7 linked regions of the Homo sapiens genome follow. The protein of the gene in region 3 interacts with the protein of the main gene of each other region in a pairwise test. Each region holds a gene or a part of one and is shown on either strand. Other genes may lie near its edges.

The links.
Region 1: the proteins of KLHL12 (region 3) and COL8A1 interact in a two-hybrid assay, tested with the Homo sapiens proteins (one large-scale study listed by BioGRID and IntAct).
Region 2: the proteins of KLHL12 (region 3) and ZBP1 interact in a two-hybrid assay, tested with the Homo sapiens proteins (one large-scale study listed by BioGRID).
Region 4: the proteins of KLHL12 (region 3) and FGD2 interact in binary tests that used the Homo sapiens proteins (3 or more experiments, as listed by UniProt).
Region 5: the proteins of KLHL12 (region 3) and FMR1 interact in a two-hybrid assay, tested with the Homo sapiens proteins (one large-scale study listed by IntAct).
Region 6: the proteins of KLHL12 (region 3) and CRTC3 interact in a two-hybrid assay, tested with the Homo sapiens proteins (one large-scale study listed by BioGRID and IntAct).
Region 7: the proteins of KLHL12 (region 3) and TAOK2 interact in a two-hybrid assay, tested with the Homo sapiens proteins (one large-scale study listed by BioGRID and IntAct).

The regions. Positions count from the first base shown.
Region 1 is NC_000003.12:99,795,594-99,799,717, forward strand, and holds the end of COL8A1 (collagen alpha-1(VIII) chain precursor), read left to right. Parts: coding exon 1-543; 3' UTR 544-3,624; downstream 3,625-4,124. UniProt on the Homo sapiens protein: Macromolecular component of the subendothelium. Major component of the Descemet's membrane (basement membrane) of corneal endothelial cells. Also a component of the endothelia of blood vessels.
Region 2 is NC_000020.11:57,613,927-57,617,426, forward strand, and holds part of ZBP1 (Z-DNA-binding protein 1), read right to left. Parts: intron 2,543-3,500; coding exon 2,318-2,542; intron 1,655-2,317; coding exon 1,586-1,654; intron 1,135-1,585; coding exon 961-1,134; intron 1-960.
Region 3 is NC_000001.11:202,920,735-202,924,234, forward strand, and holds part of KLHL12 (kelch-like protein 12), read right to left. Parts: intron 1-3,500. UniProt on the Homo sapiens protein: Substrate-specific adapter of a BCR (BTB-CUL3-RBX1) E3 ubiquitin ligase complex that acts as a negative regulator of Wnt signaling pathway and ER-Golgi transport.
Region 4 is NC_000006.12:37,008,655-37,012,154, reverse strand, and holds part of FGD2 (FYVE, RhoGEF and PH domain-containing protein 2), read right to left. Parts: intron 3,322-3,500; coding exon 3,090-3,321; intron 1,183-3,089; coding exon 1,105-1,182; intron 450-1,104; coding exon 301-449; intron 1-300. UniProt on the Homo sapiens protein: Activates CDC42, a member of the Ras-like family of Rho- and Rac proteins, by exchanging bound GDP for free GTP. Activates JNK1 via CDC42 but not RAC1.
Region 5 is NC_000023.11:147,946,419-147,949,918, reverse strand, and holds part of FMR1 (fragile X messenger ribonucleoprotein 1), read right to left. Parts: intron 1,237-3,500; coding exon 1,075-1,236; 3' UTR 1-1,074.
Region 6 is NC_000015.10:90,536,423-90,539,922, reverse strand, and holds part of CRTC3 (CREB-regulated transcription coactivator 3), read right to left. Parts: intron 1-3,500. UniProt on the Homo sapiens protein: Transcriptional coactivator for CREB1 which activates transcription through both consensus and variant cAMP response element (CRE) sites.
Region 7 is NC_000016.10:29,983,868-29,986,380, reverse strand, and holds part of TAOK2 (serine/threonine-protein kinase TAO2), read right to left. Parts: intron 1,169-2,513; coding exon 803-1,168; intron 724-802; coding exon 520-723; intron 117-519; coding exon 1-116. UniProt on the Homo sapiens protein: Serine/threonine-protein kinase involved in different processes such as membrane blebbing and apoptotic bodies formation DNA damage response and MAPK14/p38 MAPK stress-activated MAPK cascade.

The sequences.
Region 1 (4,124 bases), on a different chromosome or scaffold from region 3:
CCAGGACCTCCAGGACCCCCAGCTGTGATGCCCCCTACACCACCACCCCAGGGAGAGTATCTGCCAGATATGGGGCTGGGAATTGATGGCGTGAAACCCCCCCATGCCTACGGGGCTAAGAAAGGCAAGAATGGAGGGCCAGCCTATGAGATGCCTGCATTTACCGCCGAGCTAACCGCACCTTTCCCACCGGTGGGGGCCCCAGTGAAGTTTAACAAACTGCTGTATAACGGCAGACAGAACTACAACCCGCAGACAGGCATCTTCACCTGTGAGGTCCCTGGTGTCTACTACTTTGCATACCACGTTCACTGCAAGGGGGGCAACGTGTGGGTTGCTCTATTCAAGAACAACGAGCCCGTGATGTACACGTACGACGAGTACAAAAAGGGCTTCCTGGACCAGGCATCTGGGAGTGCAGTGCTGCTGCTCAGGCCCGGAGACCGGGTGTTCCTCCAGATGCCCTCAGAACAGGCTGCAGGACTGTATGCCGGGCAGTATGTCCACTCCTCCTTTTCAGGATATTTATTGTATCCCATGTAAAAACAAAAAAACAAAAAACAAAGAAAAGAAAGAGATTTTATAGAAGAAAATGACACACCAAAAAATCCAAATGAAAAACATAATTGCTTCAAAACACTTACACAGTTGGAAAGTTATATGTAAGTGAAAATTTGGACCATTGTGTACAAATAAAAACTAAGATGCATGTTTAATACTCCACACAGCAGCCTGTAATTGCGAATGATGGGATAGAGTTATGTATCAAGTACTGACACTTGGTTGTACCCACTGGAATCATATTAGCTGTTTTATGTTATATGCTTCCACAGTAACCTGCTTATTCAGATCAGTCAAAATATATCAGTATGAAAGATCATAGCTAATGAAAGGCACTCACTCATATTGTTTACTTTAAAATATTTATAAATATGCCTTAAAGAAATACAAATGATAACAATTACATACCGTATTTACTTGCTTAATTTCCTCTGTATTTGTGTAGATACTTTGACATGGAATATATGGTGGGGAGACCCGTAGTGTTACCGCCCCAGTGGGAGGGGGCCCTGGGGACCCTGGTAATGCTTTAGTCAAAGGGATATCTCTCTTGTATCAGAGGCTGTGTCTTTTAGTAACAGGAGTCCTCGTCAGAATTGCGTGTCTGTTGTCTCTAAAAGAATGGGTGAACCAATCGGCCTTTGTGAATTTATTCAGTGCCTTCTCTGTACCAAGCACTGGGTAAGGCACTTTTGTGGAGCATTAGACAGTAACCCTCAAGGAGCTAGAGAACCGGATGGGAGACATGAGCAGTAATTAACTCACTTGTTCCCCAGAGTTTCTATTTGTTTTGATTTTCTTTTTCTGTGACTTATTTTCCTATTTTCTTTCCTCCATGTAATTTTCACTATGGCCCAACTAATATAAACACCTGGAAATTACAAGGAAAAAAAATTCTTCCTCTAATAACTTTCCAAATTTGTGGAATATTTATTTGTAATAGCAGTTATCAGTTATGCTTATATAGCATTAAAAATTCTCCTCCTTTGACTACACACACAACCACAGTGTGGTTCTAATCATGGAGATATCAGTAATTTTTAGTAACTGAATTTTGAGGACATTTCTCTGTTTAGCATGTATGCAAACTGATATGTAATCTGAGGTTCCAAAGTCAATTTTTTTCTTTTTTTTTTGAGATGGAGTCTTACTCTGTCACCCAGGCTGGAGTGCAGTAGCACGATCTTGGCTTACTGCAACCTCTACCTCCTAGGTTCAAGCAATTGTCCTGTCTCAGCCTCCCGAGTACTGGGACTACTGTCTTGCGCCACCATGCCTGGCTAATTTTTGTATATTTAGTAAAGATGGGTTTTCGCCATGTTGGCCAGGCTGGTCTCAAACTCCTGGCCTCAAGTGATGCACCTGCCTCAGCCTTCCAAAGTGCTGGGATTACAGGCATGAGCCACCGTGCCCGGCCAAAGTCAGCTTTCAAAATCCAAGCCATAATTGGTGAGGGGGGAGTTTCAGAATTACATAGAAAAATTAATATTTGAAAAAATAATTCTGAAATTTCGAATTTAAAAACAGATGTGCTGCTTCTGGGTGTAGGTAGTAAAAGTATAGGAAAAGAACTGTTTCCTTAGAAGCGGACTGTGGAAGGGCTATGTAGAATGTCAAAGGGCAACAAGAGCCTGTGTTTTTAATGTCATCCTGTACTCGGCACAAATCAAAGGCCAATACAAGTCTGAAAAGCAGAAATAAATATTTTTCCAGGTTTTTGCTTGGGCACATACTAACTGCTTTGGGCATTCTAATCTGGTCTCCAAACACCAAAGACCCATTTCGAGCCTGCTATTAGCCTGCTGCTGACTCTATCACTTGGAGCAATAATGTGGGGTTATGGTGGTGGAATCTTGTATATTTTTGTCAAAAATAAAACCATGAGTTAAGGGGATAGATATAGATGGAAAAATACACAAATAAATACGGTATGAAAACACATGGAAATGTGTCTTTGTCAAATCTGAATCATTATTACCATCACAAAAATTCTTCTCTTGGCCAATATCTCATTTCCCTATATAGTATACAAGCACCATTTCTTCTCAATTTTTAAGAAGAGAAATTAGTCCATTACCACAGGGGTTCTTGTCACTACTAATTATACAACAATCTTTTCCCAACAAAAAGATGTCCTCCACAACCTTTGTTTTCAAAGCAGACAGCATCTATGTGGCCAAATATACTTTGGGTTGTTCTTGAGGATACTGGTTTTGGGCTGATGACTATGGTGGGCAGCATGGATCCATTGGGCTCCTTCTGCTAAACAGCCACATTGAAATGGTTTAAAAGCAAGTCAGATCAGGTGATTTGTAAAATTGTATTTATCTGTACATGTATGGGCTTTTAATTCCCACCAAGAAAGAGAGAAATTATCTTTTTAGTTAAAACCAAATTTCACTTTTCAAAATATCTTCCAACTTATTTATTGGTTGTCACTCAATTGCCTATATATATATATATATGTGTGTGTGTGTGTGTGTGCGCGTGAGCGCACGTGTGTGTATGCGTGCGCATGTGTGTGTATGTGTATTATCAGACATAGGTTTCTAACTTTTAGATAGAAGAGGAGCAACATCTATGCCAAATACTGTGCATTCTACAATGGTGCTAATCTCAGACCTAAATGATACTCCATTTAATTTAAAAAAGAGTTTTAAATAATTATCTATGTGCCTGTATTTCCCTTTTGAGTGCTGCACAACATGTTAACATATTAGTGTAAAAGCAGATGAAACAACCACGTGTTCTAAAGTCTAGGGATTGTGCTATAATCCCTATTTAGTTCAAAATTAACCAGAATTCTTCCATGTGAAATGGACCAAACTCATATTATTGTTATGTAAATACAGAGTTTTAATGCAGTATGACATCCCACAGGGGAAAAGAATGTCTGTAGTGGGTGACTGTTATCAAATATTTTATAGAATACAATGAACGGTGAACAGACTGGTAACTTGTTTGAGTTCCCATGACAGATTTGAGACTTGTCAATAGCAAATCATTTTTGTATTTAAATTTTTGTACTGATTTGAAAAACATCATTAAATATCTTTAAAAGTATGTTTCTCATCTTGTTCGTATCATTCAGTTGACACTGAACCTCACAAGTATTTTTAAATTCGTACTCTCATGAATTAGCTGCTGAAATAGAGACCTAAAATAAGCATAGCTTATACAGAACAATTTATTCCTCTTTGACTTAAGAGCTCCTAGGATAAGCAGTCTAGGACTCACATGGTAATTCCAATCACAGCCCCAGGCTCCTTCCATCTTATTGCTCTTCTACATCAAGGGTGTTGCCCTCATCTCCATGGTCCAGGATACTAACCATCAGTCACATTCTATCCCCGGGGAGGATGAACAAAGCAGGAAGGACAGGACATGCTTTTTGTCTTAAAGGACTCAACCTAGCAGCTGCTTGGATCACTGTCTCCCACATCCCGTGGCTCCAAATTTAGTCACGTGACCACAAGAAGCTGTAAGGAAGTGTGGGAAATTGAATAGTCTATGTAACCATATGCCCAGCTAAAAATCAGGGGTTCTAGTAGTATGGGAGAAGA
Region 2 (3,500 bases), on a different chromosome or scaffold from region 3:
CCCTCCAGGGTCTCAGCTCCTGTGCCTTTGTGGGCCCTTCCCCCATACACAAATATTTAAATTACATTGTATAGCAAGGATAACCCAGGCTGGATTTTTAAATTTTATTTTATTTTATTTTTTGGGGGACAGAGTTTTGCTTTTGTTGCCCAGGCTGGAGTGCAATGGCGCGATCTCAGCTCAGTGCAACCTCTGCCTCCTAGGTTCAAGCTATTCTCTTACCTCAGCCTCCCGAGTAGCTGGGATTACAGGCGCCCACCACCACACCTGGCTAATTTTTGTATTTTTAGTAGAGACGGGGTTTCGCCATGTTGGCCAGACTGGTCACTCCTGACCTCAGGTGATCTGCCCGCCTCAGCCTCCCAAAGTGCTAGGATTACAGGCGTGAGCAACCGTGCCTGGCCCATTTTTAGATATTCATTATTATTGTAGTATTCATTTCCTCTGATTTTAAATGAAATTAAAATTAAAACATTTTCAAGGACCCCTGAGAATGCCATGCACCTATTGGATCTTGGCCCTGTGTGTGTTAGGTCTCACGGGGAAGCTGACCCTGCGCTGACCCTGGGGCTCCAGCCGGTAGGGGTCCAAGACTAGTCTTGCCTTCTCTTCTGCCAACTTTTAAACCCCAACTTGAGCAAAGTGCTCAAAGAAAACCATTCCCAAACTCAGACTGATCCCTGCACCCCAGAGCTGAGAACATTGGGAATGGGCCACCTCCGTCCCATTCACTGGCCTTCTGCAACTGCAGACCTTGGGCCACGCCTCCAAAAAGCTGTCCCTGGTTAATCTTGCCAGCACACCCCTTCCTCCTGGAAGCCCTTGCAGTGAATTGTCGGTAGGACCTCCAGAAGCTTCTAGCAGTTTCCGGTGAGCTGCTCAGCAGAGCACCCAGCAAAGACCAAGCACTAGTGTCATGGTTTCCCTCTGCAGCCCAGACACAGGCAGCCGGGGGCCTACCTGGGCGGTAAATCGTCCATGCTTTGGACTGCTCATCCATGTCCAGAAGGTGCCTGCTCTTCATCCTGTACAAGTCTCGGTTCACATCTTTTGCTGTCCTCATTCCCAGTGCTTGGGCGATGACCAGGGCCCTCTGGGGACCATTGTCTTTGAGAAACCTGTAGATGTCTTCCTCTGGGAGGCAGGATGGCCAGGTGGTTAGGGAGTAGTCCTAGGGTTTGCATCTGCCCCACCGCTTCCTAGCTGTGTGGCCCTGGACCCAGCCCCTCAAGGCCTGGTTTCCTCATCTGTAAAATGGGTGTCATGATAACGGGGTCATCATGACGCACCGCAGAGGTGCCCTGAGGGTGGGGGATGTGCACAGAGTGCTCTGCGCTGGGCCTGGCATGTGGCGGGTGCATGGTGAGGGTCAGCTATTGTCTGACTGGAGAAATCACTGCTCAGCCATTCAGATTCTCCCACTGTGAGGGCTGGGTCTTGGCTCTGAACACTGTATGGGAGCTGCCTGGTGGGTGGGACAGGGCCCCTGAACACTGGTGAGATCTTGTACCCTCAAGGAGGGCCTGGGGTTCCTGGGGAGTGGGATCCTGTGTCCCGGGAACTGAAGGGACATGCAAAAACTTACCCCGTTGTTGGCTGAACTGAGGGCCAGGGGTCTCTGGAATTGTAGCTGCATGTTGCTGGGGCCTCTCGGCTGCAGAAAGAAAGATGGGTCAGAGGGGTGGGGGACAGAAGACAGCACCAGGCCTCCACCCCACAAAGGTGGGCAGCTCCCTAGGGGTAAGTGGCAATGCCGGTAGTTGCAAACTCAGACTCCAGAGTTCAACACACTTGACTTCAAATCCTGCCTGCGCCCTGGCAGCTGCGGCTTCCTGCCGATTAACTTCTCCGGGGCTCAGCCTCCTTTGCCTCCTGGGGTTGTGTGAGGGCTGGGTGAACCCCAAAACAGTGCCTGGCTAATCTTAAGTGCATGATAAATGGCAGCTCCTTCTGGCTGTGGGCTGTAAAGCTAGAAAAGGGGGGCTGGTGGGACTGCATATGTTCTGTGATTGGGACCATGGCGTCATTGCTGTCTCCATCATGATGATTTTCTATTATAATTGTTAGTGTTCTGCAGAGTACCTCCTGTGTGCAGGGCTGGGCTGAGCCTGACGCAGGGCCTCCTCTCAGCAACCCCTACCAAGCAGCCCTGCTGTGAGCTCCATCAACCAGAAAAAGAAACCAAGGCACAGAGAGAGGAAACCTGTGAGCTCCCATGTGGCAGAGTTCAGATTCGAACCCAGGCTCAAATCTGTGCTTGTCCATTGCCAGGATGCTCCCTGCAGGGTCAGACCCGCCTCCCCGGGGTGGCAGTTACCAGGGCTGGACAAGGCCAGCTCTGCAGGACCCTCGCCTTCAGGATCAGTCCCGCCCAAGCACCAGGTGGCAGGGGATGTGAGGGAGACTTTCAACTCCTTTTTCATTCGGTAGAGGACTTGGTTGAGCTCCCTCTTGGGTGCTTGGCATTCCTTCACCAGCTGGGCAAGTTTCACCGGGGAGCCAGCCTCTGTCAGCACCTGCAGGATTCTTTGTTCAAGGTGGCCTGGGGGAGCGAGCGGGGGACAGAGAGGGGAACTGAGTCTCCCAGGTCCCCACAGTTGAGCCCAGGCTGGAGGCTCCAGGAGGCACGTAGGCCCCTTTTTGAGAGGGGTCCAGGGCAGAGGAAAGGGCAAGGACCCCAGCAGATGCCCCCTAAGAGCAGTAGGGCAGCTGCATCTGCCCAGAGGGAGGCATGCAGGCTGATCAGAAACGGCCTTGGCTGCGCAGCCTGGTGGCCAGGGGAGGTGCCACCTCGCCTGTGCCCTCCCCGGGTGTGGGTTCCAGAGGGCAGTGGGGTTCCTCAGCTCTCAGGTGTCCTCAGGGCAGAGGGGAGTAGAGGGCAGAAGGACGGAGCCAGAGGGAGGCAGGGGGACCTGGGAGCGCAAAGGCAAGTCCTGCCTGGGACGCCTGCCTGGGTTTACCTGATGCCCATCGCCATCCTCCCCGGGAGTGCCCTCCTCTCAGCTCACCATCCATCCATGGCGCCACTATCCATCCAAGCCAGAGACCGACCAGACATCAGAAACAGACCTTTCCCCCAGTGCCCAGTCGTGGAGCCCTGGAAATGCCATTCCTGGATTCTCTGGAATCCCCCCACTCCTCTCTTTTCTGCCAGCACCACCCCCTTCCTCTTCACCATCTCCTAGGTACAGTGATAGGCTCCCCGTTGGCCCGCCAGCTCCAGTCAGGTACCCTCCAGATCTGGCTCTGCCAACCACCCAGCTTGGCCTGCACCTGCCCCCAACTTCCCTCCAAGTGCTGGCCTGTCTGTGCTCCCTTCAGCCCCACTCTCCCCAGCCCCTTTGTGCACACTGTTCCTGCTGCCAGGAGCACCCTTCCCTCACGCCCCAACCTGTATGATGTCTACTCAACCTCCAGGCCTCCTCAGATGCCACTTCCTAGGGAAAGCCTGTCTCTGTGTCCCAGAGTGGCTGGGACGCTGCTTGTGTGTGGGTCCCCTG
Region 3 (3,500 bases):
GTAGGTAGTTATCTATACGCCAGGAATAAGTAATAGGTAACACCTTCCTGGAATAGTAATTTTGCCAGTGAATAACTTTAAAAATCTATTTCATATTAAAATACAGATGTATTTACAGAATAGAATGCAAAAGTTCCATGAACATAACACTGGTCCGTGAACTTTTAAGATAAGACACAATATTTCAAAGAAATTTCATGTTCGTAGAGGAGCCTGTGGGTTATAACTCCAGTCTCTCCAGGACTACCTAGTTCCTATCATCTGTCCTTAGACTACTTTTTTTTCCCCTTTGTTGAGATAGGGTCTTGCTCTGTTCCCCAGGCTGGAGTGCAGTGGTGTGATCTCAGCTCACTGCAACCTCTGCCTCCCAGGTTCAAGTGTTTCTCGTGCCTCAGCCTCCCAAGTAGCTGGGATTACAGGAGTACACCACTACAACCAGCTAATTTTTTTTTTTTTTTTTGACACAGTCTTGCTCTGTTGCCCAGGCTGGAGTGCAGTGGCGTAATCTTGGCTCACTTCAAGCTCCACCTCCCAGGTTCAAGCGATTCTCCTGCCTCAGCCGCCTGAGTAGCTGGGACTACAGGCACATGCCACCATGCCTGGCTAATTTTTGTGTTTTTAGTAGAGATGGGGTTTCACCATGTTGGCCAGGCTGGTCTTGAACTCCTGACCTCAAGTGATCTGCCCACCTCAGCCTCTCAAAATGCTGGGATTACAGGCGTGAGCCACCATGCCCGGCCCTTAGACTGCATTTAGTAATGACGAAAAAGAACATGCAGGTCATCCTAAGGGACTTTCTTATGTAACATCATCTGAATACAAATAAATTATTTGTTACTTTTTCAAAATATTGGGTTAGACTAACTGAATTGTTAGCAGTATATTTAGTCTAAATTGTTAGTAGTATATCTTCTTGAAGCTATGAGTATTGATGAGGCCAGATAATCATAGAAAACTGTTTAGCTAAGAGAAGAAATCTTCAATTTTACAGGAAACTATCTGAAAATACCTTATGAAAATTTTACTAGATCTTAATCTTAGTTTAGAAATTCATTTTACTTAAAAAACTCTGGTGCATCTCCATTATTAACTAAATGGCTTTAACGTTTTTTATTTCTCCATCAGCCAGAGAATAACCAAAAAGCACTCTCTACCAAAGCCAAGAACAAAATCAATCCCTAACACTAAAAAAGTCACTAGCACATTATTTTGAAAAAACATATTAGGTTTTATTAACATTTAATACAGTACTAATATTCATAAACAATTACTATCCCAACACATTAAATGCATTTAATAATTATGGTACTGAAATATGTAAGTACATGTATTCCAGAAATTTCTCATTCAATAAACTACATTTCCATCAAATAGTTTAAATATGGAAACAATTTCACTATGTAAGAACTTAGAGCAATTATACATTTTACAGTTATATTTTGCTTTAGAATTTTTCAGCATGCTTCTCATTTACTACTATTTCATCTGATTCTCACAGCAACCTGGTAAGGTAGTTAGGTCTGATATTATTACTATCTAAGAGATAAAGGGGGGCCGGGCACATGGCTCAAGCCTGTAATCCCAGCACTTTGGGAGGCCGAGGTGGGTGGATCACAAGGTCAGGATATCGAGACCATCCTGGCTAACATGGTGAAACCCCGTCTCCACTAAAAATACAAAAAATTAGCCAGGCGTCAAGGAAAAAAAAAAAAAGAGAGAGCGATAAAGGGTCTAAAGATCAAAGAAGATCCAAGACTTTTTTTTTTTTTTGAGACAGAGTCTCGCTCTGTCACCCAGGCTGGAGTGCAGTGGCGTGATCTGGGCTCACTGCCAGCTCCGCCTCCCGGGTTCACGCCATTCTCCTGCCTCAGCCTCCCGAGTGGCTGGGACTACAGGCGCCCGCCACCACGCACGGCTAATTTTTTGTATTTTTAGTAGAGACGGGGTTTCACCGTGTTAGCCAGGATGGTCTTGATCTCCTGACCTCGTGATCCACCTGCTTCGGCCTCCCAAAGTGCTGGGATTACAGGCGTGAGCCACCACGCCCAGCTGAAGATCCAAGACTTAACCAGTCACTTAGCTAGTAAGAGACAGATATCATTCTTATTAAAGTATTTCAGGAAAAAAAAAAGAGAGAGAGAGAGAGACAAAACCCAGGTCCTCCTGCCTCAGTCTTTGTGATCTTTCAATCAGATGACATTTGAGGAGCATTTCATAGCTGAAGAGAACAAGGAAACCATCTAGTTCAACTACTTTATTTTACAGATCAACCCAGTGAAGTTAGATGGTTCCCAGGGTTTATACAGAATTGCTAAGAGAACTAAGCCTAGAATCCAGGTCTCTGGACTCTCTCCTTTGAACAATTACTCTCAAAAATAAAGACAAAACCATCTAGCATTTCCTTGCCTGATGTCAGTTTTTAAAGAAAGAAATCATCACTGATGAGAAAAAAAGAATTCATTTCCAAATAACAAAAGAGTAAAGACACTATTTTCAAGCTGACAAAAAACAGGATGCACAACATATAATTAGCAATCAGCCGTTCTAGTTCATTTCTTGCTCAGCAGCTGCTGGGTGACACTCTCTTTACCCAGTTAAATTCCAAATGCTTCTGATGATCTTGGGTATATCTCATGGAGAACAGTATAGGACAGGGATCTGCCTTGGTATATCACACAAGTTTATTTAAAAATTAGCCTGAATTAGTTGGAATGACCTGTCAGGTTCCTGTTTTCCCTACTAGCCATGTGACTGAGCATTGGCTCATAGTATTTTTAACTATACCAGTTTTAAAATTAGATTGTAGTATATAAAATTCATACTTCGGAGGCTAAGGCGGCACAAGAGTTACAAACTGTTTGGGCTTTAGAGTTGGAAAATATAAAATGAAATCCCACCTCTAGCACTTACAAGCCATGGGACTTTGGGCAAGTGATTTAATATCTGAAACCCTATTCCTTCATTTGTAAAATGAGATGGTAATACCTACCCCTAGGGTGAGTCAGATATGCACAACAATTACTAGCACAGTACCTGGCCCATAAAAGGTAGTTATTACCATCACAGAATACGCCTCTCCCATTCTGATTCAGCAGCAATATCTACACTAAGATGATAGAACTAACTAAAAAAAAAACAAAAAACAAACAAAAAACTTGTGCTTAAAAAGACTTTTAAAACAGTGTTTTCATAATGAAATATTTCAGGCATACATGTAAGTGTAAATTATATAATAAACAGTGATGCACCCACAACTGAGCTTTGAAAAAATAAATCAAGATAATTTATTTAAATCTGCTCTTAAAATGAGACTTGGGATCTTGAAAAACAAAGATTTGCAATGTTATTTTCTGTTCAGCTTTCTAAGAATATTCAACACAATATATTCAGCAGCCTTACTATACATTTCAAGTATTTTGTCAGGCAATTACTAAGTAGTGTTTCTTAATACTTTGTGAGCACTACCTGTATTCTCTCAAGCCAACCTTTTCCTAATTCCC
Region 4 (3,500 bases), on a different chromosome or scaffold from region 3:
AGGCGTGTAGGAAGCCCTCAGTTGGCACTGGCTATTTTCACTGTCCCAAAGTCACTTGGTCACTTGGCTTGGCCAGGACCTGATCCACCCCTTTCCCCAGGAAGCAGTCTGCACACACACAGCCTCTCAGAGCTCATTCACCCAAGCCCTTCACTGTGCAGACAGACCGAGCCCCAGGGAGGCATGGCCACACAATAAGGGCCTGGGCCTAGGAGGCTGAACCTAGCGCCCTGGGGTCTCCCCACCTCCACCTGGCCAGGGCTGTGGTCTGAGGCCTCAGGGGCTCCTGGTGGACCTCACCAGTCGTCCAGGCGCCGCTGCAGCTCTGGGAGGAAGAACTGAGAATGGAACTGATAGATGGAGGAGATGTTGGAGAAGATGACCCTGACCACATCCTCTGGGAAGGCCTTGCTGCTGCGGGCTGTCTTCAGCAGCTCCTGGAAAAACACCTGTAGCCGCCACGACAGGTCACTCACTGCAGTGACAGGGAGCCACCCACACATCAGCCCGGGGGAACTAGGGTCCCACCAAGCCTACTGCATGCTTCCACCTCCCTGATCTCCCGGCATCCTCACAGCAACCCCGGGAAAAGAAGGCAGGGGAGGTTGTGTTCTGGCCACTTTACAGATGAGCAAGGCAAAGCCTAGAGATGCAGGGACTTGGCCAAAGGCTGGCAGCTGATGAATGCCATAAACAGGCCCAAACTGTGGAGGTCTTGGACTTCATCAGACTAGAGCTCCCTGCGGTGATGAATAACCCTCTAGCCTTAGGGCTCCTGAAAAACTATGAAAGGTAAGATCGTTGTGAGGTTGTGGGCATTGAGATGACAGATGAAGATACCGTGTAGGCCAGCAAGGGCCAGCTGGTGTGTTCTCTGCTATACAGGGGCCAGCCTGGGCACCACAGGCAGAATGGGGAGTACTGCTAACAAGACCTCCTGATTCTACCCCAACCCCAGCCATTGAGGTTAAAGGGCCAAGGCTTCCTGGAGTCAAAGCCAGGGCTCCTGACTCAGCTCTGGTGAGCAGGGTGGGAAGGCTGAGAAGGGGTGAGGTGAGGAGACCCAGGGCTGGGGCTCTAGAGGGGGGTGTCCTGGTCACTGGCCTGGTCTAGCAGGTGGAGGCGCGCCACATAGGCCTGCTCTGTCTCCAGCAGCTCCTGGACGATCTTCTTCTCTGGCTCCTGCGGAGGATTGGAGGGGAGAGAAGGAGAAAAAGGGGGAAGACAGCTTTGGTCTCCTCTGATGGGGACCTCGGTTCAGTCTCCAAAGTTGCTGCAGTGAAGCATGCCTCCCGGGATTCATGGCCTCCCGCAGTGCATCTGGGCCGGCCCTGGGGTGGCTTTCACAGAATGCAGCTGAGTAAGGCTGTGCCAGTTCTCTGCCTTAGCCTTAAGAGGCCTGGAAGCTTCCACCTGTGCTGTCTTGGGAGCTGTGAATCACTACATCAAGGGGTCTGGCAGCTCTGATAGGGAGACCTCATGGACAGGCCACGTGGAGAGGAGAGGCCTGGAGAATACACGGAGAAAGAGCCCAGCCCTGCCAGCATCCCAGCTGAGCCCAGTCTTCCGGCTGTCCCTGCCCAGATGCCAGACTTGCGAGCTGAGCTGTCTTGGGCATTCCAGCCCCAGCCATCCTCTGACTGCAGCTACTTGAGAGATCCCGCTGGGAACTAAACTGCGTCCGCCAACCAAATTCCTGTGTTGAAGCCCTAACCCCCAATGTAAGTGTATTTGGAGATGAGGCCTTGGAGGAGGTAATTGAGGTTAAATGCGATGATAAGAGTAGGGCACTAAACTGGTAGGATTAATGTCAGAAGAGGAAGACACACCAGGGATGACAAAGAAATGGCCATGTAAGGACACACTGAAAAAGTGGCTGTCTTCAAGCCAAGAACAGAGACCTCCCCAGAAACCAAACCTGCTGGCACCTTGAACTTGGCCTTCCAGCCTCCAGCACTGTGAGAAAATAAATGTCTGGTGTTGAAGTCTGGGGCATTTTGTTACGGCAGCCCAAGCAGAATCACACAGACCCCCGAGTGAGGCCAGTAGAAAAACCTCCCGGCAGCATCCCAGTCAACTCACAAAATGTGAGAAACAATAAACAGTTACATTCAGCCCCTACATTTTTTTTTTTTTTTTTTGAGACAGAGTCTCGCTCTGTCACCCAGGCTAGAGTGGAGTGGCGCAATCTCGGCTCACTGCAACCTCCTCCTCCTGGATTCAAGTGATTCTCCTGTCTCAGCCTACTGAGTAGCTGGGATTACAGGCGCCCACCACCATGCCCAACTAATTTTTGTATTTTTAGTTGAGACAGTGTTTCCCTATGTTGGCCAGGCTGGTCTTGAACTCCTGACCTCAGGTGATCTGCCCACCTCGGCCTCCCAAAGTGCTGGGATTACAGGCGTGAGTTACTGCACCCGGCCAGCCGCTACATTTTTGATAGGTTTGTTCAGCAGCGATTGAAAACCAGGACGCATTACTATAACCACTATCCCCATTTTACAAATGAGGAAACTGGCACAAAGAGACTCAAGTGACTTGCCCAAGGACACACAGTTAGTAAGCAGACGTGCTGGGATGTGACTCCAGGGAATTTGGGTGCACAGTATCTGCATGCCAACCCTTGAACTCTGCAGATGAGAAAACTGCAAGCCACAGAAGAGATCAGACTGGGCTTTAGTCTAAGGGCAGGACAGTTCACACTCAGACCTCTATTTCTAGGTTGAGATTGTTGTCTCCTCCAGTGGGTAAACTGAGGCCCCACCTGAGAAGAGTATTAGGTTCACAAGATGGAGACTGTTCCAAGCTGTGTGGCCTTGAATAAGTTCCTTAAAACTGTGTTTCAACTTCCTTGTCCAAAAAACTCCTACACGAGGGACTCGCGAAGTAATCCAGCACGGTGCGTAGCAGGCAGTTAGTGAATCAAAGGCCATTAAGCATGGGGAAATCTAGCTCCCAGCTGACCTCTGATCACACCATACCCCCACCTGGGGAACTGCTGGCTCTGGCTAGGAAAGCATGTGTGGAGGGGAGGTCAGGGAGAGCTCCCCACCCCAGCACCCCACACCTCTACCTCAGCCCTCAGGCACCTGCGTCCCCGATCCTGAGAGGGTCACAGGCTGGCAAGATTTCCTCCAGGCTTCGCTGGACAGCTTGTTCTTCAGGGAGTTCAGGTACCTCCTGCTGACTGTCCTGGGCTCAGACCCCACGGCCTCCCCGACATTCGTCTTCTCCCGTGGTCCTGGGGACTCGGGAGGCCTGCACTCAGGGCGGTGATGCACGTCCTCTAGCCTCTGGCCTCTGGGTGCTGCTTCTGGGGTCCTGAGGAGAAGAGACAGACCTGAGGGCTTCCTCCCTGGAGAACAGGGAAAACAGCAGCAAGTCCCTGGTGTGGATTTGGGTTGCCTGGTGCAAATCCCCAGTGCAGGGGCCCCTGGGTGCCTGGCTTTCTTTGGGAACATGCTGAGTAAGACTTTCACTTCTCTCCCAACACATTCTTG
Region 5 (3,500 bases), on a different chromosome or scaffold from region 3:
AGACAAAGTACCTGTACTTTGCAGGATTATTATGCATACATGGAAATGACCTTCCTATCTCTCCAAAATAAGCTTGAAATTAAAATATGAAAAATTTCACAAAACTTGGGGCAGACAAAATTAAAAAAAAAAAGCTCTAAGTTAAAATTGGTCATCAGGCCAAAGAGCAGGCATATCCTACTAACTTTCGACCAGGAAGATTTGTTCCTAGCTGAAAACATTTTAGCCTCTCTCAGATGAAGATAGTTCTTTCTTCTCCTGTCTATACAGAAAAATTACACATCTCTCTCAATAACACTATTTATCAAACTTCAGTGCAACAAAACAAAAACAAAAACAAGTCCTATTCTTTATACTGCCTAACCTGATGTTTATGTAAGGAAAAAAATATGGAAAGCATGCATTCTTCTATAAAGTACTAATGTTTGACAGGGTTTGCTACATCTTTAACATTTAGTGTTTCCAACTTATCTTCCCTGAACTCTGCATCCAAATATAATATTCCTACCTGCCAAGATATAAAAAAGGCACAGATCATACAACTTTTTTTGCTAATGAAAATGACAAATGTCACATCACACACATTTCAGGGTCCACTAAAATACTGGAAAAGTGGACCAAAACATAAACTGACACAGGACATGAAATGACATAGCATTTCATGAAGACTTCTATACGAGATTGAAAACAGAAGTCTAATATGATTACCATAAATGCTATATATTAAGAAAAACTGAGAATGTACTGGTGAATGATCACCCAATGCAGGAAAATGGTCCAAATTAACAAAGAATATCACTGCTCAGTACTTTAGAAAATAAAACTAAAATCTGCCCTGAAGTGCTAAGTAGTTTTAAAAGCAATGTTTCAAATTTTAAGGTATCTTTTTGTGCAAATCTGAAAATTGTTGCTTATGGCCAATACCAAAAAATAAAAAATTCTTAGCATAATTTGTGTTCATTTCATGCCCTGTGCCATCTTGCCTACTATTTGTCTTTGGCCTAACAAAGTTTTCTAATATGGAATAAGAATTACGGAAATGGTATAGGAAATATAACTTCAGAATTATGCAGTTTAGGGTACTCCATTCACGAGTGGTTGCTGACCATCCACGCTGTCTGGCTTCTCTTTCTTCTGGTTACGATCTTTACCCGTGCGCAGCCGACTACCTTCACTGGAGGTATTCTGTAATGTTTTAGTGTGGACACTCCTTTCATTATTGCAGTCAACTCTGATCTAAAACAAGTTATAGTTGTTATATACACAGACCATATCCTACTGTAATCTGTAATTGGCCTGACAAGAAATTTAAACCTGAAGTGTAAATTCCACATGTTAAAAAGAGAAATGGAGATGAGAACAGAAGAAGTGCAAGAAATTAATGTAAGGTAGGATTCTTTATTTGGTTTATGATTTTAAAACACTCTTCTTCTTTAACTGGAACACACTGGTCATCTCACTGCATCCAAAGTTAGAGAAAAACTCACAATCCTATCATGTCTTCTTCTAAGTAGAATAAAACAGTGAGAAACAAACAGGTAAAATGAATTACTATTACTGATTACCAGAAGACATACATGCCTCTAACACTAGAGTTAAAATAAAATTAGTTATTCTCCAAAGATTGTGAAGCCCAGGAAAAGAGAAACAAAATGTTTTCCTATTCTGGCTTTACCCTCAAATAACTCACTAACTAGACTTTAATTTACATCTTTATATCTATCACAGGTATGATCAAGTTTCTCTATACTGAGAGCTCCCATAGTCATACAGTAGAAAAACACGAGCTTTGGTTTCTACTGGCTTGTATTTCACTAAGAAAATTCAGATGATCCTACAACCTGAACTCTGTCTGAAGAATGGAACAGTATAAAGAAAACTGCATATAATAATTTGTGGAAGGACTGGAATCCTAGGAGAGTATAAAGATCAATGTAATTTAAAAAATAGTGTTCTAAGAGCTATAAAATATTTTAAGTGCCAATGCTGAATACAGCACTGCTAATTCCAGAGGTACAAATGAAAGTTAACAGTGACAAATGGAACTAAAACAACTACAAATATTGATCTACTTCAAGCACAAATGCTAAAAACATCCCCAAATGGTTGTAATTTCAAAGTATGTTTAAGTAGTGGGTATGTGCATGTGTTTTAAATGTCTCGTTACCAAGGATTCAGTACTTTGATTTGTATCTTTTTTTTTTTTTTTCCCAGACAGTCTCGCTCTGTCGCCCAGGCTGGAGTGCAGTGGCGCGATCTTGGCTCACTGCAAGCTCCGCCTCCCAGGTTCACGCCATCCTCCTGCCTCAGCCTCCTGAGTAGCTGGGACTATAGGTGCCCGCCACCATGCCCGGCTAATTTTTTGTATTTTTAGTAGAGATGGGGTTTCACCATGTTAGCCAGGATGGTCTCGATCTCCTGACCTTGTGATCCACCCGCCTTGGCCTCCCAAAGTGCTGGGATTACAGGCGTGCGCCACCGTGCCTGGCCCTTTTTTTTTTTTTTTGAGATGGTGTTTTGCTCTTGTTGCTCAGGCTGGAGTGCAATGGCAAGATCTTGGCTCACTGCAACCTCTGCCACCTGGGTTCAAGCGATTCTCCTGCCTCAGCCTCCCGAGTAGCTGAGATTACAGGTGCCCGCCAACACGTCTGGCTAATTTTTTGTATTTTTAGTAGAAATGGGGTTTCACCATGTTAGCCAGGCTGGTCTCGAACTCCTGACCTCAGGTGATCTGACCACCTTGGCCTCCCAAAGCGCTGGGACTACAGGCGTGAGCACCGCGCCTGGCCAGATTTGTATCTATTTTCATACTTAATAGAGAAAACATCACCTTTTAAATTCAGTATTCCATTTCATTTAGAAATATAAATGTGCATCCTTTTAACCAATGCAGTTAGACTGCCAAGTTCATCAAACATATCAGTTTAAGTGGAAAATTACAAAACGGGTACTTAAATATCTTATAGCTTTGTAAAAGACAGGTACATACAGTAATTTACCAATCTATCTATCCCTTGGACATGCTGGTCCTTAAGAACCCACCAATAGTTAACACTTACTTTGAGCTGCTATGAATTCCAAGAAATATTCCATCATAAACTTTGTCTTAAAAAGTATCTCTCACTAATCTTGGGTGATGGTCCCAAATGAATCCATAGTCAGGAAGGAACCCTAACTACTTAATAATTAAAAGTTACAGAAAAAGTAGACGACAACATAGATTCAGAGAATCAGACACTAAGGTTTGACTATCATTTGGACATATGCTAGCTATGTGACTGTGGGCAAAGGACTGAAGCTACAGTGCACTCACCTATAAAGTGGAATAATAAAACTACCTCAGTGGGTTGCTGTAAGATTAAATGAGATAAAACATACACAAAGCACTTAGCAAAGGTGCCTGGATGTGCTCAGGAGATAATTTTAAAATTATTTAACAATTGGTTTAGCACTGGTGACAGCCAATTGAGAAGAGATCCTCGGACTAGGTCCTGGCTGTA
Region 6 (3,500 bases), on a different chromosome or scaffold from region 3:
TCTCGACGTAAGTGATCACACCCTCAAGGTTTCCGGTGCTTTCTGGGTTTTGATTACTCTATTTTCGGAAAGAGCTTACCCATGTTCCAAATGTCCCATATACCATGATAGTAACGTCCTCTTGCAAGGTCTTTGAGTGTGTATGTTTGGATACACTGGCATAATCTTTAACAACAATAAAAGAATTTCTGAAAGAAAAACTAAGCTACTATCCACAACCCTAACACATTAGCTGTTTTCCCTTCTTCATGCTCTTTTCCAGCCTCCGTTTACATTTATGGTAAGAACTGCATAGCTGTGATCATAAGATAGGTACAACCTAGCATGCTCATCATAAGCCTTTTCTATGCTATTACAGAGTAATTTTTAGTGGGTATATAACAGTTCTTCTGAATTATTTCCTTAGAACACCTTCCAAAGGGTGATTACTAAATCTCTGGATATGGGCCTTTTGGTGGCTCTCAACGTATACTGCCGAAATGCTTTCCCAAAGAGTTTATAATATACATATGAGAAAAGTTTCACCAAAAAAACTCATTGATATTGGATATTACCATTAATTGGGGTAAGGAAGGAGGTCAATTCAATAGGTATAAAATGGCATCCCACCATTTTAATATGCTTTTCTTTGTAAGTTCTTCCTTACTTCATTTTTCAAAAAGCAATAAACTGGTTACAGTTCTTGTAAATCTCAAAGTGGTCTGATCTGGTCTTTAAGAGTTCTGTTTCTAAAATAATAAATTAGCTCCATGGTTACATAACCCTTGGCACTATAATTCATATAGAGAAGAAAGGGTTATAGACGAGAGCCCTGGGGCAGATTTTTACCCTTCATCACTCTCTGTCTCTAACAATAATAAAACACTACCAGATCTAAGCCCCTAGGATGGGCCAGGTGCTGTTCTCGGACACTTGGCCCACTTCATCCCTAATCCTCCCCACAACCATGCAAATGAGACTGTACTCTCCTGCTGTTACAGACCTGGAGACCCAGACTCGGAAGTTCAGTGACTTGCCACGTGGCTAGCAGGAGGCTGAGCCACGGCTGTCAGCCTCAAAGCCCATATGCCCATTTCTGCCATGCTCTTTTCCTTTGTCCCATCTTTCCCTCGATGATCATACTAATTACAAACTCAAAAAAAAAAAAAAGGTGAAGTTTGGTTTACCAAAAGCATTGTTGAACCTATGAAGCTCTCTGATAATTTCCTTTTTACATTTATTATGAAAGATTTCAAATAGTATATGTGAAATAAAGACAAGTATAATGAAACCCCATCTATCCATCTTCTAGCTTAAAAATTACCAACTTATATACAATCATCTTTCATCTTTACCCTCTCCACTACCCGCAGTGCCTCACTGACAGAAATTTCAGACATGGTATCACTCCATATTTCAATATGTATTCTCAAAAGATAAAGACTTATACTTGTTTGGAAATTTTAAAGGCATACGAAATCCTTCAGTGGCTTTAACTTCCCTTATACCTGCTGTATTTGATTTCTTAAATGTACTGCACAGGGAGACAGTTATAACCTATTAATCAAAACCCAAATCTCAGAGTCAAACATGAGGAGGACGACATGGTGTTTTTTCCATCTAGGAGTGGAGTTATAGGAATAAAGTCTCTCAGCTTTCAATCTTAACATTCTAAAAGTACTTATCAGAAGCATCTGACTATTCTTGAAATTCTCTGGACAAAATTCTCAGCCATCTTGATTTAAAGCCTTTGATTTCTTTTTTGAAGGATCAATTTATCCATTGATTTACTGATACAAAAACTTAACTGTGTGTCAGGTAGTATGCCAGGCACTGGCTTACTAAGATGAATGTATGCTAAAGTTCCTGCCTTCAGAGAGTTCTCACAAAGGCTTCAACTCTTACCCAAAAGCCTTGACACTTCAACCAAACTAAGTTATAAATCCAGATAGGGACCTGCCCTCAACTGAGCTGAAGGCCGTCTCACAATCCCCCATAACTGCTCTCCCTCCCAAAGCACCTATTTCCGAAGCCTTCAAAGACTGTTAAAAAAGAACACGGCTAGCCTGGCCAACACGGTGAAACCCCGTCTCTACTAACTATTAGCCAGCTGTGGTGGTGCATGCCTGCAATCCTAGCTACTTGGGAGGATGAAGCAGAAGAATTGCTTGAACCCAGGAAGCAGAGGTTGCAGTGAGCCAAGATCATGCCACTGTACTACAGCCTGGGTGACACAGTGAGACTCTGTCTCAAAAAAAAGGCCAGGAGCAGTGGCTCATACCTGTAAATCCCAGAACTTTGGGAGGCCGAGGCGGGCGGATCACGAGGTCAGGAGATCGAGACCATCCTGGCTAAGACGGTGAAACCCTGTCTCTACTAAAAGTACAAAAAAATTAGCCAGGCATGGTGGTGGGCGCCTGCAGTCCCAACTACTCAGGAGGCTGAAGCAGGAGAATGGCATGAACCCGGGAGGCGGAGCTTGCCGTGAGCCGAGATGGCGCCATTGCACTCCAGCCTGGGCGACAGAGCGAGACTCTAAAAAAACAAAAAGCACTGGACCTGGAATCGGATGATGTGACTTTGTAACCTGCAACTCCCGTGTGGTTGGGCAAACAACTCTGACGCCTCCTGCACAAGATAAAGTGAGGATTAAATGACACAGACACAAGAGTGGTATGTCAAATGTAAAGCTCTGGTCAACTTAAGATATTATCATTATTGCTGATCTCAGCTACCTCTTCAAACTCTGAGTTATTTTGACATTTTCCTCTTTTGAAATTTAGACTCATTGAGCTAGAAAAAGAACTTTGAGACTGTCTTCAACACCTTCATGTTTACAGATGATGAACATGTGAACCAAAGAATGATTAGCCTAAGGCCGAGGTCACAGACTGGCAGCCCATAGGCCACATTTCACCTAGAGTGTTCTGTTTACCCACCAGATGTTGACCCATTCAGTGTATTAAATTTCAATTGAAAAAATCAGGACACTGCATAAAAATATGGATTTCCAACTTCTCCTGATTGAAAGATCAGACAACACTGAACCCATGTTCTTGCATGGCATCGCTGGATGAAGCTGAGAAGAGGCCACCCCCTTAGATCGTGTTTGCCAAGTCCTCACTGTACCCTATTATCCCTTCACGATGGCCCAGGATCAGCTGCCATGATCATCTCATTCCTGGCCCCTCCATTCATTTTCCTTACCTGCCTCACTTACTGAGTTAGTGACCTTTGGCCTACAGTCACACATCTTAGTGGAATTTTCTTTAATGCCTACAGGAAATGAGATCCAGGCCTCATTAATTCCTTTTTGAGAAAAGTCTCACAATAGCCAACACGATTACAATCCAAAATCCCAGCGGGTCCTTTCAGAGACATTGACAAGATAATTCTAAAATTTATGGATGTGCAAATGACCTAGAATAGTCAGAGCAATTTTTTTTTTTTTTTGAGACAGGGTCTCTGTTGCCCAGGCTGGAGTGCAGTGTCACAATCACAGCTCACTGCAACCTCCACCT
Region 7 (2,513 bases), on a different chromosome or scaffold from region 3:
GCCCGCGTGCGCTGCACGGCCTGGAGCTGCCGCAGCTCCAGCTCCCGCGTGGCCTCGTGCTGCCGAAGCAGCAGTGCACACTCCAAGTCCTTCTGGGTCTGCTTCTTGTTCAGGTCCTGAGGCAGAAGAAATGCAGGGCCCGGGGCCTGGTCAGTATCAAGGAAGTGAGAGGCCAGGGCTCCTTGGCAGAGGGAGCTGGGGATGGCGGAAGAAACACAGGGCCCAGGGCCTGGTCAGTATCAAGGAAGTGAGGGGCCAGGGCTCCTTGGCAGAGGGAGCTGGGGATGGCAGGAGATGAGGGTGTAGGGGAGGCAAGCTCCTCCCTGGCCTGGGAAAAGAGGCCTAAGGAAATTCTGGCAGGGTCTGTTGGGGATGAGAAGTAAAAGGGGCACTGAAGCAAAGCTGAACTGTAACACTCGAGGGCCAAGGAGAAAGAAGACAAGAATGAGGAAAATGGAAAAGGGTGGGTCCCTGGGATCCACGAGTGAGCGGGAGGGGAACAGAGATTGGGATGCCTACCTCCCGCAGCAGGTCCTGGTCCAGGCTGTGCCGAGCCAGCAACATCTTGCGCTTGTACTGGCGACACTGCAGCTCAAAGTACTGGCGCTGCCGCCGCAGCAGCCCTGCTTCCTCCTCCGCCTGGCACTGCTGGAGCTGCTCCTTCTGCCGCAGCAGCCACTCGGCCTTCTCCCGCTTGGGAGTGCTGGGGTTCTCCTGGAGCTCCTGGGCGAGTGCAGAGGGAAGCAGGGTCAGGACCCACCTGGCTCGCCATCGGCTCCGCCCCCAAGCAGCCCTAGCTCACCTCCTTCAGCTGTTCCTTGCGAAGTTTGTAGGTCCGCTTCTGTGCCTCCAGCAGGGCAGCCAGCTCCTTCTTCTGCTGCCCAAGGATGTGCTGCTGGAACTTCCGCTCCTCGGCCTGGGCAGCTCGTGCCTCCTTCTCACCTATGGCCTGGTGCCGCCGGGCCAGCTTTTCTGCCTCTGCCCCAAAGCCAGCCCGCTGCGCCTCAAGCTCCCGCTGCAGCCGTGCACTGTGCTCCTCCCGTTCACCCCTCAGCCGTGACTCCAGGGCCAGCAGCTGCTTCTGGTGCTGTCGTCGCATCCGCTTATAGCCGCTCAGCTGCTCCCGCAGCGCAGAGTCCTGCTCATGCTCCTGGATCTGACGGCTGACCTGGGGAAGGAGAGAGGGTGAGAGCTGGGGCTCAGCCTGGCCCCTAGTTAATTAACACAAGGGGTCTTCCGTGGGGAAGAGCATGGGTTTTCAACTCATGGGTTTCATTCTCATTTAACACCTTCCTCACACACGGCCACTCTAGCCTGTTTCCTCAACTGGATAATGGTGATATTATCTACATCACAAGTTGGTGTGGCCGAATGATAAAAGGTGGCGAGCACAGGGCCTGGCACAAAAGTAGGAACAATCCATACTAATTTGAAACAGTGAGTCAGACATACCTGGGATCAAATCCCAGCTTTGCCACTTACCAAGCATGTGATCTCAAGTAAGTTAACTTCTCAAAGCACCAGTTCCCTCATCTGTTAAATGGGGAAATAATACCTCCTCATAGGGGCTGTGGGGTAAGTTCGGACTCTATCTAATAAGTGTTGGCTTCCTTCCCCTTCAGCAAACATGGTCGGCCTATCACTCCCCAGGTATTGAGGTGGGATCGGGGCCACAAGATGCTGGAATAACAAGAACACTGGGCTTGGACACCTTCATCCAAAGTCTGATCTCAGGTCTCATTCTCAATTGACTCTATGAGTGGCTCTCAAACTAGTCCCGGCAGCCAAGCCCCTGGCAGTCAAGACCTCTCAGCACAGTACCGCACAACACCATGGGATCTGAAGAATTGTTGGAACACAACCAGCACCAAGCAGAGGCCATAAGAACATACTAGACTTAATCAGTGGCCTCTAAGGGGATTGTTGACGCTCAAATGCAGCTCAGCAGGAACGTGATCTAAAAACATAGATGAAAAACTATGTTTTATGAAAAGCCTAAACACTTTTTCCTGTGAACTGAGAAAGACTGCCATGAGTTGATTTTAGGAGAGGACTAAGGGCCTGCTTACAGGAGCAGAGAGCCACCAAAGGCACTGGGGCAAGTGGCCCCTCTGAGCCACAGGTGCCTCATTTCTCCAATGGGATCTTACCCTTCCCCTCCCAGGGGGGCTGGGAGGGTTAACACAGGCCTGTGTGTAAGCCTGAGAGCTAACTGCTGGCATGAGACAGATATCTGAACACCATCCCTGCCCTCTGGGGCACAGAATCTGGCAAACCTATCATGATGCTGTTCAGGACCACCCAAGCACAGGGCACCCCCGGCACAGGGCTCCCCAGCACTGGACACCCCCAGCACAGGGCTCCACAGGCACAGGGCTCCCCCAGCACTGGGCTTCCCCAGCACACAACTGTGAAGCATCTGACTCACCAGAGGAGCCTGGGAAGGCAACCCAGGAGATGTCAGTTAAGTCAGGCCACAAAAACGGAGTAAGAGTTTGCCAAGCTAGAAACAC